Regions from separate parts of the Homo sapiens genome. Here region 2 is linked to region 1. Evidence: fine-mapped expression QTL. A gene starts in region 1. The other region holds a variant in brackets. All regions are shown on one strand. Distances are from middle to middle.

Region 1 (5,531 bases):
CACTTCACTCAGGACCCTGCCCAGACATCATCTCCTCAGAAAGGCCTTTCCTGACACTGTATCTAAAATTATCTCTCTTCCTCCCTATTACCTGCTTTAATTTTCAGTTACTTCCCAAAATATTTATCCATTACTTATATATTGTTTGTCTTTTATCACCAAATTACAAGTTTCATAAGAGCAGGGTTTTTTTACCTTGTTCACCGCCTGGAACACACTAGCTCAATATACATTCAAACGAATAAATACATGAACAAATGAACTATAAGACACTTAACATAAGTTATTCCAATATTCACTTGCTTTTACATTGAAATAGAAAGGAACTGTCAGCTAATGTGATGAAAAAAATGTTTTACTTAAGTACTTACTCGGCTGATCTGCGTAAGTTCTCAGAGGCACTGCAGAAAGTCCCTGTAGGCCATGAGATATTCGATTGAAATGGCCTCTCTAGAAAAAGAAAATGTCCCTATTATGTAAGATATGAATTCAAAACATAGAACTACTGAAGGTTGATGATAACAGAACAATTTTGGGCAAACGTATCAAGCGAGGATTATTAGTGTATCTTCTTCCATTGCCACACAGAAGCTACAGATCAATATCCCCTCTTTGACAATAACTAATCATTTAAATTTTTCAGCCTCAGCTTGCCACACCCATCTTTTTATTATCAATAGTCAACAAATCATCTCATATTTAACTTAATTTTAAAAACGTATTCAATGGTATTTTTATTCAATTTTCAGAAAACATGGCTAATTATTAGTGCCAGGGATCATTTTAATGTCATAAAGCTCTGAGCCGGCCGTGGTGGCTCACGCCTGTAATGCCAACACTTTGGGAGGCTGAGGTGGGCGGATCACCTGAGGTCAGGAGTTCGAGACCAGCCTGGCCAACATAGTGAAGCCCCGACTCTACTAAAAATACAAGAAAATTAGCCGGGTGTAGTGGTGGGTGCCTGTAATCCCAGCTACTCGGGAGGCCAAGGCAGGAGAATCACTTGAACCCGGGAGGCGGAAGTTGCAGTCAGCTGAGATAGTGCCATTGCACTCTAGCCTGGATGTCAGAGTGAGACTCCGTCTCAAAATAAATAAATAAATAAATAAATAAATAAAGCTCTGAAAGTTCTAACTTAAATACTTGAATAATCTATACATGATAATCTTTTTACCTGTAATTTTTGTTTCCTAACTCTAAGCTAGCGTGTATATACAGTCCGTATTTACTTAGAACAATCTATGAAGATGTTCCTGAGACATCAACTAGGAATAGCAAATTAGACAAGGTAACTTAGGAAAATGCACCAAGTAATGTACTTACGTTCTGGTGCTACTACAGTTTGACAAATTGCATCATAATCTCCCTAATCTCTATATGTGGACGGCTACCATTTCCTAAGGGCAATGAGGCAGAAAGCAAGCAAGCAAATAACCCCTGCTCACAGCAGGAAAATGGGCGGCAGTGACAAAACCTACACTGATGTTTCCTATTCCAAGGCAACTCTTAACATTTGAGGTCAGGACAGCAAACCCAAAAAGCAGCAGATTGACAATCCTGAGTTTCAGTCCCACCTCCGCCGCTCCCTAAAAGCATGACTTGCAGAATGTTACATTAACTTTTGAGAACTCAGGTTCCTCATCTCTGAAACAAAAGGGTTTGATCGCTATATTATTTTTAAGGTCTCCACTAACATAGTACCCAGCCACGGTGCCACATACACACAATTTGGCTGTATCTGGTAAGCAGATTAAAAAGGAGAGTTGTTCTGATAACCTGCTGCAATTAAAGATTTAAGCCTCCAGGAAGTCGTGAGAGATGGCAATGAACACCAGTTGAAAGCTGCCAACACTGACAAGACCTTAGGGGAATTCCGAGGGCTATCTGTTGGAGCTGACTGGATCTAAACCATTCAAGAAGTGACCCCAGGGTTACCTGCCCACTGCATAAACTTAGGCCACTCAGGGATCAGAATTAGGATGAGAAAAAGGCAAATGGTATAAAAAGCCAGACTATACGGGACATGGGTGGCTTACACTTCCTCCAAGGTAGAGGCCTATGTGTGACCGGGATGGCCCTCGGCCCAGGCTTGGGGGTGTGGCATGTGTGACCGCCGGCCGTCACACAACCCGAAAGGACTCGCCACAGCCTGGGCCCAGCCCCGTCCCTCGCCTGCTGCAGGATGAGCGGCCACCTCGGAGCCCAGGGCCGGGCTGAGCCAGTGCAGAGGCGGGGCCAGGGGTGGTGCGGCCCAGGCGCCCGCCTCCGCCAGCCCAACACGGTTAAGCCGCGTACCGGACCCACTGAGCGGGACCTTCCGTGCCTCTGGCTCAACACGACCTCACCTACTCGGCCCTCACCTTGGCCAAGGAGCAGTACACACGACTCCAGCTCTGCATTTTTCCGCTGTATTTTCCTTTCCGCCAATACTTTCACCTCCGCTGGGCGCCTCCGCCGCTCCGCCAAGGTCTCCCCTCCCTGCGCATGCACAGGCGCAGCCTACGTCATCACCCGGGAGCAGCGCGATTGGCCCGCGCGGTTCTACCGCACGAGGCGTTCCTGTCAGGCTCGGCGTCGTACGCTGTCGTAAGGAGCGCAGGGCTTTGTCGCAGCGGGGGTGGTGGTGGGAATGCTTTAGGGGCTGGTGCCAAAATGTCGAGCTACAATGTATTCTTATACTTAGAAGATGAAATAAACAAATAAAACTAGCGTTTGCTTAATGCACATTATCGACAGTAAAGCGTGACAAGTTCAACAAGCTCTTGGTTGTGCTAGGCATTCCTCGGCACTTCCTACAGACATCTCATTTCATCCTTGCAACAACCATATGGAGTATTATTAGTATTTCCATTTCTTGGATGAGACCCAGAGAGGTTAAACAGTGCCCCCAAGGTCTCACAAAGGAGAGATAACTGCGGCCCTGAGGCCAAAACCTTTGGTATTATCTACTGCTTTATACTCGCTCCTCTCAAATGCCATATAAGGGATGGGGCTACAGATTTTGGCATCACCAGCATTCTGCTCTAATTAGCTAACTGACAATACGTAGAGAACACACTTTCTTCTATTTCTTTAGTTGAGAAACACATCTCCCTGGTAAAAAGAGAGTGGGATGGTGGATGAGATTTTAGGTTTTGAGAGAGAATCTGTTGAAAAGGGTTGAAAAACATTGTCTTCAAGATTGAGCACGAAAGTCTAAGGTCTCATTCTTGCCTTGCAATAAGTCTATATAGTGTGAATAAACTTAATTCTACATTTATTGGAAGTCTACCACCCAGGCCTTGTGCTGGGCTAAACACTGGTTAGAAATTACTGCCTATGTTCAGATTTAGATATGAATAATTAAATTTAGTGTTTGTTATAGAGACGGTATTGCTGGCAGCTCTGTCCTGTGACAGGGTCCCAGGCTCCTTTTATCTCGTGACTCTGCCATCATCAGAGCTTGCCTTGCATCTTTCATTCAAGATGGCTGCTCCAGTTTCTACAATCATATCCCCTCATTCCATCTGATTACAAAGCCACACCTAGCTGCAAGGGGATCTGTGAAACATAGTCCTGTCAGCTGAGTGCCTAACTGAAATTGTATTAATAAGCAAGATGAGATGAAGCGAAATTGGGGGACATTGAGCAGCCTCCACCACACAGATGGGGAGAATTGTCTCCTCTCCAGCTTCATGGCAGTCTTTGACATCTGGTCTAGGAGTTACTGCTCCATATGCACAAAATCTCACAATTCTTTCCTGAACTTTCTTGGGCTTTGTTCCCTACTCCTTTGTCCAAAATTACAATATCATATTTTTATTTTTAAAAAATGAAACACTTCCATCCTTTCCAGCTGTCATTCACAAAGCCTAGGGGCTCAACCCAGTATGAGAAGTGAGGCAGGAAATAGATTCCTTACTGCACTCACCATATTTCTCCACATTCCTCCTCATCTCTTGTACCAACTATACCTCTTCTCCTCTCAGCTAGAACAAAAGCCACAACGCATATAAATTAATGCGAACACACGGGAGGTGGAGGGAGCGATGTCAACAATGGACAGCCCACACTAGCAGTGTTTATATTCCAGCTAAGGAATATAACCAGAAATTGGACCACACTTATTTTGCTAACTTGATTTTTTTCACTTAAAACTATCTCATGAGCAACTTTCCATATTCATATTGTGTCCAGAATTGGTGGGTTCTTGGTCTCACTGACTTCAAGAATGAAGCTGCGGACCCTCGCAGTGAGTGTTACAGTTCTTAAAGGCGGCGTGTCCGGAGTTTGTTCCTTCTGACGTTTGGATGTGTTCGGACTTTCTTCCTTCTGGTGGGTTCGTGGTCTCGCTAGATCAGGAGTGAAGCTGCAGACCTTTGCGGTGAGCGTTACAGCTCTTAAGGCAGCGCGTCTGGAGTTGTTCATTCCTCCTGGTGGGTTTGTGGTCTCACTGGCTTCAGGAGTGAAGCTGCAAACCTTCGCTGTGTTACAGCTCATAAAGGCAGTGTGGACCCAAAGAGTGAGCAGCAGCAAGATTTATTGCAAAGAGTGAAAGAACAAAGCTTCCACGCTGTGGAACGGGACCCAAGCGGGTTGCCACTGCTGGCTCAGGCAGCCTGCTTTTATTATCTGGCCCCACCCACATTCTGCTGATTGGTCCATTTTACAGAGAGCTGATTGGTCTGTTTTACAGAGAGCTGATTGGTCCATTTTGACAGGGTGCTGATTGGTGCGTTTACAATGGCTGAGCTAGACACAAAAGTTCTCCAAGTCCCCGCTAGATTAGCTAGATACAGAGTGTCGATTGGTGTATTTTCAAACTCTGAGCTAGACACAGAGTGCTGATTGGTGCATTTACAAACCTTGAGCTAGATACAGAGTGACGATTGGTGCATTCACAATCCCTTAGCTAGACGTAAAGATTCTCCAATTCCCCACCAGATTAGCTAGACACAGAGTGCTAATTGGTGCATTTACAAACCTTGAGCTAGACACAGAGTGCCGATTGGTGCATTCACAATCCCTTAGCTAGACATAAAGATTCTCCAAGTCCCCACCAGATTAGCTAGATAAAGAGTGCCGATTGGTGCATCCACAAACCCTGAGCTACACACAGGGTGCTGATTGGTGTGTTTACAAACCTTGAGCTAGATACAGAGTGCCGATTGGTGTATTCACAATCCCTTAGCTAGACATAAAGATTCCCCAAGTCCCCGCCACATTAGCTAGATACAGAGTGCCAATTGGTGCATCCACAAACCCTGAGCTAGACACAGGGTGCTGATTGGTGTGTTCACAAGCCTTGAGCAAGACACAGAGTGCTGATTGGTGCACTCACAATCCCTTAGCTAGACACAAAGGTTCTCCAAGTCCCCACTAGACTCAGGAGCCCAGCTGGCTTCACCCAGTGGATCCTGCGCTGGGGCGGCAGGCGGAGCTGCCCGCCAGTCCCGCTGTGTGCCCGCACTCCTCAGCCCTTGGGCGCCAGTGGGCCAGCACTGCTGGGGGACCTGGCGCACCCTCTGCAGCTGCTGGCCTGGGTGCTAAGC
Region 2 (5,000 bases), 52 kb before region 1:
GAAAACTTAGTAAAAATAGAGGAAGCCTACTGGCCACAGAACAGAGAGTGTGTTTACAGATGAAAGTCAAATTATTATGGCTTGTTAAAATGAGTATCTCATTTAAAAAATACTATTCTTCATCTTCATGATTTGTTCATCTTAAAGATTAGGCAACAACTTTTGCTATGTATGCTCTCCTTTCCAAGAGAAAGTTTCTGATTCTCTGCCAAGTAATCCCATTTCTTAAAATAAGACTGCTTTATCTAGGTCATTTGGATTCTGATTCCTTTCTCTTAAGAGAGAAGGAGCCCACTGGACCTCATCAGCTGCAGCCTGAATAGTCAGTTCACAGTTTTTCAGATCCTGGTGGGTGTGTGAGATGATGGGAGAATCTCCTCCATACATTAGTGTCCATGAAGTTTTACTAACTTGTCAAGTGTGAACTGACCTTTCTGCTTCAGCCACGTGAGTGTGGGAGTTTCACTGAAAATATTCTTGAAGTGGAGGGGGTCTTTTTACAAGGTTGTAAAATGTGGGCCTTCTGGTGCCTGCCTCTTAGGTGACTCCAAGAGAAGCAATTCTGGAAATTCAATAGCCAGGGAAGGAAGCACATGACCAGGGGCTTCAGCTTGAAATCAAAACCTGGTACATTTGAGACTAGTTATTTGGTGCCCTCCCGGAGAGTCAGGCCCAACTTTTTCAATAATGACACTGCAATCCGGTCATCTGTGAGATTTGATGGTTTACTTTTCAGGTGGGAGAAAGGAATGTTGGTCAGTTTGGCTGAACTGGTTGTTGACTTCTGGAGAGAGCCGAAGCTCTGCTAGCTCATTGGAACTCTTACCCAGGCTAATTTCCCTCGGCCAGATAAAGAGGGAAGCCTTATCTGCCTTTTAAGTCTTTCAGGGTTGGGCTGTTTTCCCCTTAAAGATGCCTATGACAGAATGGGAGCAAGACATGTCTTTGGCAACGAAATAAATGAAAAATGATCACAGAAATTAAAAATAAATCAACGTATGCATGCATCCCTTGCCCCAAGCATGAATCCAGCAAAAACCTAATGTTTAGGACTGAACAAAGGTATACCTTTGCATCATCTATGGGAAAGAAATAATTGTCTAAGCAAACTATAAGCATATGCAACTCTGCCTCAGTTGTGTCAAGTCTAAGGGAGATGGGTGAGTAGGCCCCAGAGGGCTGCCTCACCCTGACCACTGGCTGGTAGACAAGGTAAGTTTTATTACAAATGGCATCACTTCTTCCTCTGTTACGTAAGTCCTGAGATTTGTGCATCAGCCTACATTGCTGAACTTCCGAAGTCGTGATTCTGCTCCAGCTCCACCTTTTGAAGGGTATCTCTTTCTCCATCTCTCACACAGACACACAGATACACACACACGCACATGCTCTCTTTTTTTCTCTAATATACAGAAGGCGGGCAGAAACAGCTGGGAAAGTAACAGTCAGTGCTCCACAAAACGGGGTCGCGTGACTGTGAACATCAGTATCTCCTGGGAACGTGATAGAAATAAAAATAGTTCTGGGCCCCACCCAGACCTACTGAATCAGAATCTGGGGATGGGAGGAGAGTAGAGAAGCAATCTGTTTTTTATGAACCTTCCAGGTGATTCTGATACCTACCCAAGTTTGAGAGGTGAGGACCCAGGTGACTCGGGGGTAACTTTTAGCTTTCTGGAAGATGACTAAATTTTACCAAATGATAATGGAAATGTATTCCTAAAATCTAAACAACATAAACTCTTAAGGTACTAAGTTATTTAAGTTATTTGTAAGTTATCTAAGTTCTTCCTAATCTCAGAAATCGATTAATGTAGTGGTTTTCCCAAGCCTTTCTCATTATTTCTCTTGGGTGTCACTGGCATTGACTTCCACTAAAAAAAGATCCCATGGTCAAATGACTTTGGCATACATACAACTGGATAAAAACAATATAAAACAGTTTTTCCTGCAGAACTCTTCTGAGTCTGTAATATGCTGACACTTGTTTTTAATCTTCAAGATAAGGATACAGAA[C/T]TTTTCATCATGGGATAGTTTTTTCAAGGAACACATCATAGAACGTATGGTCTACGGATCACCATTAAAGTTATCCATGGTTTGCCTAAACAGCTTCCTGATTCATTACGAGAATATTCCCCAAACAAGAAAAATGAAACATACTTTAAGTACCTGGAAAGGATCTGTTTTTTGAAAAGCATACACCCAAGTTTTACTTTTGAAATCCTAAGGTCTTGGTTTTGAAAACCCCAGGCGCTAAGGAAATTACATGTTTTAAAATCCTAAAGGTTGAGGAATTAATATTCTAAACTTCAAATTTTTGAATAATCATGACGTTATTGGCAAATACATATAAATAAACATATAACCGGAACACGTTTTTCCCCTTTATCCAATGGAAATACGATCAAGCATCACTCTTAGCAGAAGACTACCAGACACTTGTAGGGACACGAAAAGTGATAATAAAAACAATTTATTTATTGAATGCTTGCTATAGACCAGATGCTCTTCTAAGCACTTTGTAATTATTTTATCTTGAAAGCAGTCCTGTATTTATAATCATTACCTCTTCTTACAGATGTGGAAGACGTGACTCAGTTTCCTGATTACCCAGGGTCACATAACATGTGTGGAGAAGGCAGGATTTACCACCTCAGTCCGCAGTTCATGCTCTTAACCATAATGCTGTACTCCTCAAACCTGCCACTCGAGAGCTTGGAATGTAGGGGGAGAACAAAGACAATAAAAAGATAAACTAGCAATACAAGGCAGGATGTGGTGAGGGCCAAATGAATGGGCCACAAACACACACCTCTGGGTTGAAAGGATGGTGATGTTATAGCAGATCTCAGGACCCTCAGTATAACTGGTTCTGGGAGATGTTCCATTAGAAAGTTTTTCAGAGGAAGGCCGGGCGCGGTGGCTCACGCCTGTAATCCCAGCACTTCGGGAGGCCAAGGTGGGCGGATCACAAGGTGAAGAGATGGAGACCATGCTGGCCAACATGGTGAAACCCCGTCTCTACTAAAAATACAAAAATTAGCTGGGCATGGTGGTGCATGCCTGTAGTCCCAGCTATTTAGGAGGCAGAGGCAGAATAGCTTGAACCCGGGAAGTGGAGGTTGCAGTGAGCCGAGATCATGCCACTGCACTCCAGCCTGGGAGACAGAGTGAGACTCTTCCAAAAAAAAAAAAAGTTTTTCAGAGGCAAATCACAGCTATTGACCCAAGAGTGGCTCACACCTGTAATCTCAGCACTTTGGGAGGCCAAGGCAGGCAGATCACCTGAGGTCGGGAGTTCCAGACCAGCCTGACCAACATGGAGAAACACCGTCTCTTAAAAAAAAAAAAAAAAAAAAAAAAAAAAAAAAAAAAGCCGGGTGTGGTGGCGCATGCCTGTAATCCCAGCTACTCGGGAGGCTGAGGCAGGGGAATTGCTTGAACCCAGCCAGGAGGCAGAGGTTGCAGTGAGCCGAGATCGCGCCATTGTACTCCAGCCTGAGCAACAAGAGCAAAACCTCCGTCTCAAAAAAAAAAAAAAATCCGAGAAAGCATGAATCTGTTGTGCTTTGCCACAGTTGACATTGCACTTCAGGAGGATTATTTTCTTTTATGAAGGTATGTAAGTGTCCTTGCATGCCTAGACTAAAATGAGGTTAGGGCTTCATTTGGCAAAGACGTTTGGATTCTGATTGCAAGTTAACCCTGAGTCCGATGCTGAAAAACGAAAAATGGTTTAAGATGTGCCCCTGCCCTTGGAGTCCACAATCCAGTTAGGGAAATAAGATAGTATATTCTTTATTTATTCCTGTCTTTCCTCAGAATGGGTGGAAGCCCAGCGATAAGATGTTAGCATAAGGCCTTTCGTAATTCAAACCCTGTATAAATACTTTCAAATGTCAGATGTTGATATAAAAATGATTTGGTCACCTGAAATTTGGGAATCTAAGCCAGGGTTCAAGGGCACAGCCACTGTGCTAAGTAATCTCAGCCACAGCTACTGGCCAAGAACACATTTTGTCCTGTACGGCACGTGATTTTCCTGTGCCATTTGGCTTTGCATGAGGTGCCAACCCTATTGGGCCTGTGAGACGCTGAGACTGAATGGCTCCCAAGATCCCTGCTTGTAGTACTGGCAGTGGTCATCACAATGGCAGACACCCCCAAGTTAGATTATACTTAGTTGAAAGCCTTTAAACTGGATACTTAGAATTCCTTTGGGTTTTGTTTTGTTTTGATCATGTTTATTGCATTTCATCAAGTATGTTTTGTTGTGAGATAGAGTCAGGTACGTAAAGAGCTTCTCATTTGTGATGTATCCGATGCCAGGTGGCACATTATCAGGATGTAACCTGGATTGTTTGTACAGACATGGTCTGTGGGGAAATCCTAAGTAAGGGGGAGGCAAAGGCAGGACGGAGGTGAAGAGTATAGACTCCGGAGTTGCAAAGAACTGAATCAGAATTCTGGCGTGGCCTTTTCCTTGCAGTGAGACTTGGGGCATGTTACATAATCTCTCTGATCTCTGAGTTCCCACATCTGTGAAATAGTGATTATTATAACACGTATCCCATAGGGTTATTGTGAGAGTTAAATGGGATCATTCATATAAAACATTTCTGTTTAAAGTATTATTACTGCTAAGAAGGGGTTAGCAACCACTGAAGTCACGCATGTGCTAGAGGAAGCTGCTACAGTCTCTACCTGAGCCATTGGTCAATTGTTGTCGATGGTTGACACCTTCCCATTTTCACAGTGAAGTGAGTATTCTAAATGCCACATCTTGTCACTGAGGTTCATGATTAAGTAGATCAGCTAGCATTGCTTATTCCCTTCTAGCCTGTGACTGTGACCCCAGGGGCATTGAGACGCCACAGTGTGACCAGTCCACGGGCCAGTGTGTCTGCGTTGAGGGTGTTGAGGGTCCACGCTGTGACAAGTGCACGCGAGGGTACTCGGGGGTCTTCCCTGACTGCACACCCTGCCACCAGTGCTTTGCT

Which allele goes with the higher level. Positions count from the first base shown, and alleles are read on the strand shown. Sizes are in standard deviations (SD) of each study's normalised expression.
As copies of C replace T in region 2, the expression in breast of the gene that starts at base 2,467 in region 1 goes down (small effect, 0.12 SD a copy in GTEx).

What was found. PIP is the estimated chance that this variant, and not a neighbour inherited with it, causes the effect.
Region 2: its variant is the best candidate, but not a certain one, in a credible set for the expression of DLD in breast (GTEx, PIP 0.58).

Annotation. Positions count from the first base shown.
Region 1 is chr7:107,888,119-107,893,649 of GRCh38, reverse strand. It overlaps DLD (dihydrolipoamide dehydrogenase), which reads right to left and starts at 2,467. Exons shown (of 14, transcript NM_000108.5): 1 at 2,361-2,467; 2 at 372-450. The coding sequence starts at 2,399. RefSeq lists a silencer at 2,127-2,236 and enhancers at 2,297-2,536, 2,047-2,729, 2,687-2,766.
Region 2 is chr7:107,940,198-107,945,197 of GRCh38, reverse strand. LAMB1 (laminin subunit beta 1) reads left to right here. Exons shown (of 34, transcript NM_002291.3): 25 at 4,840-5,000. Among named protein-coding and RNA genes, the nearest start is that of DLD, 52 kb to the right of the region's middle. The variant C/T (reference allele first, on the strand shown) is at 2,017.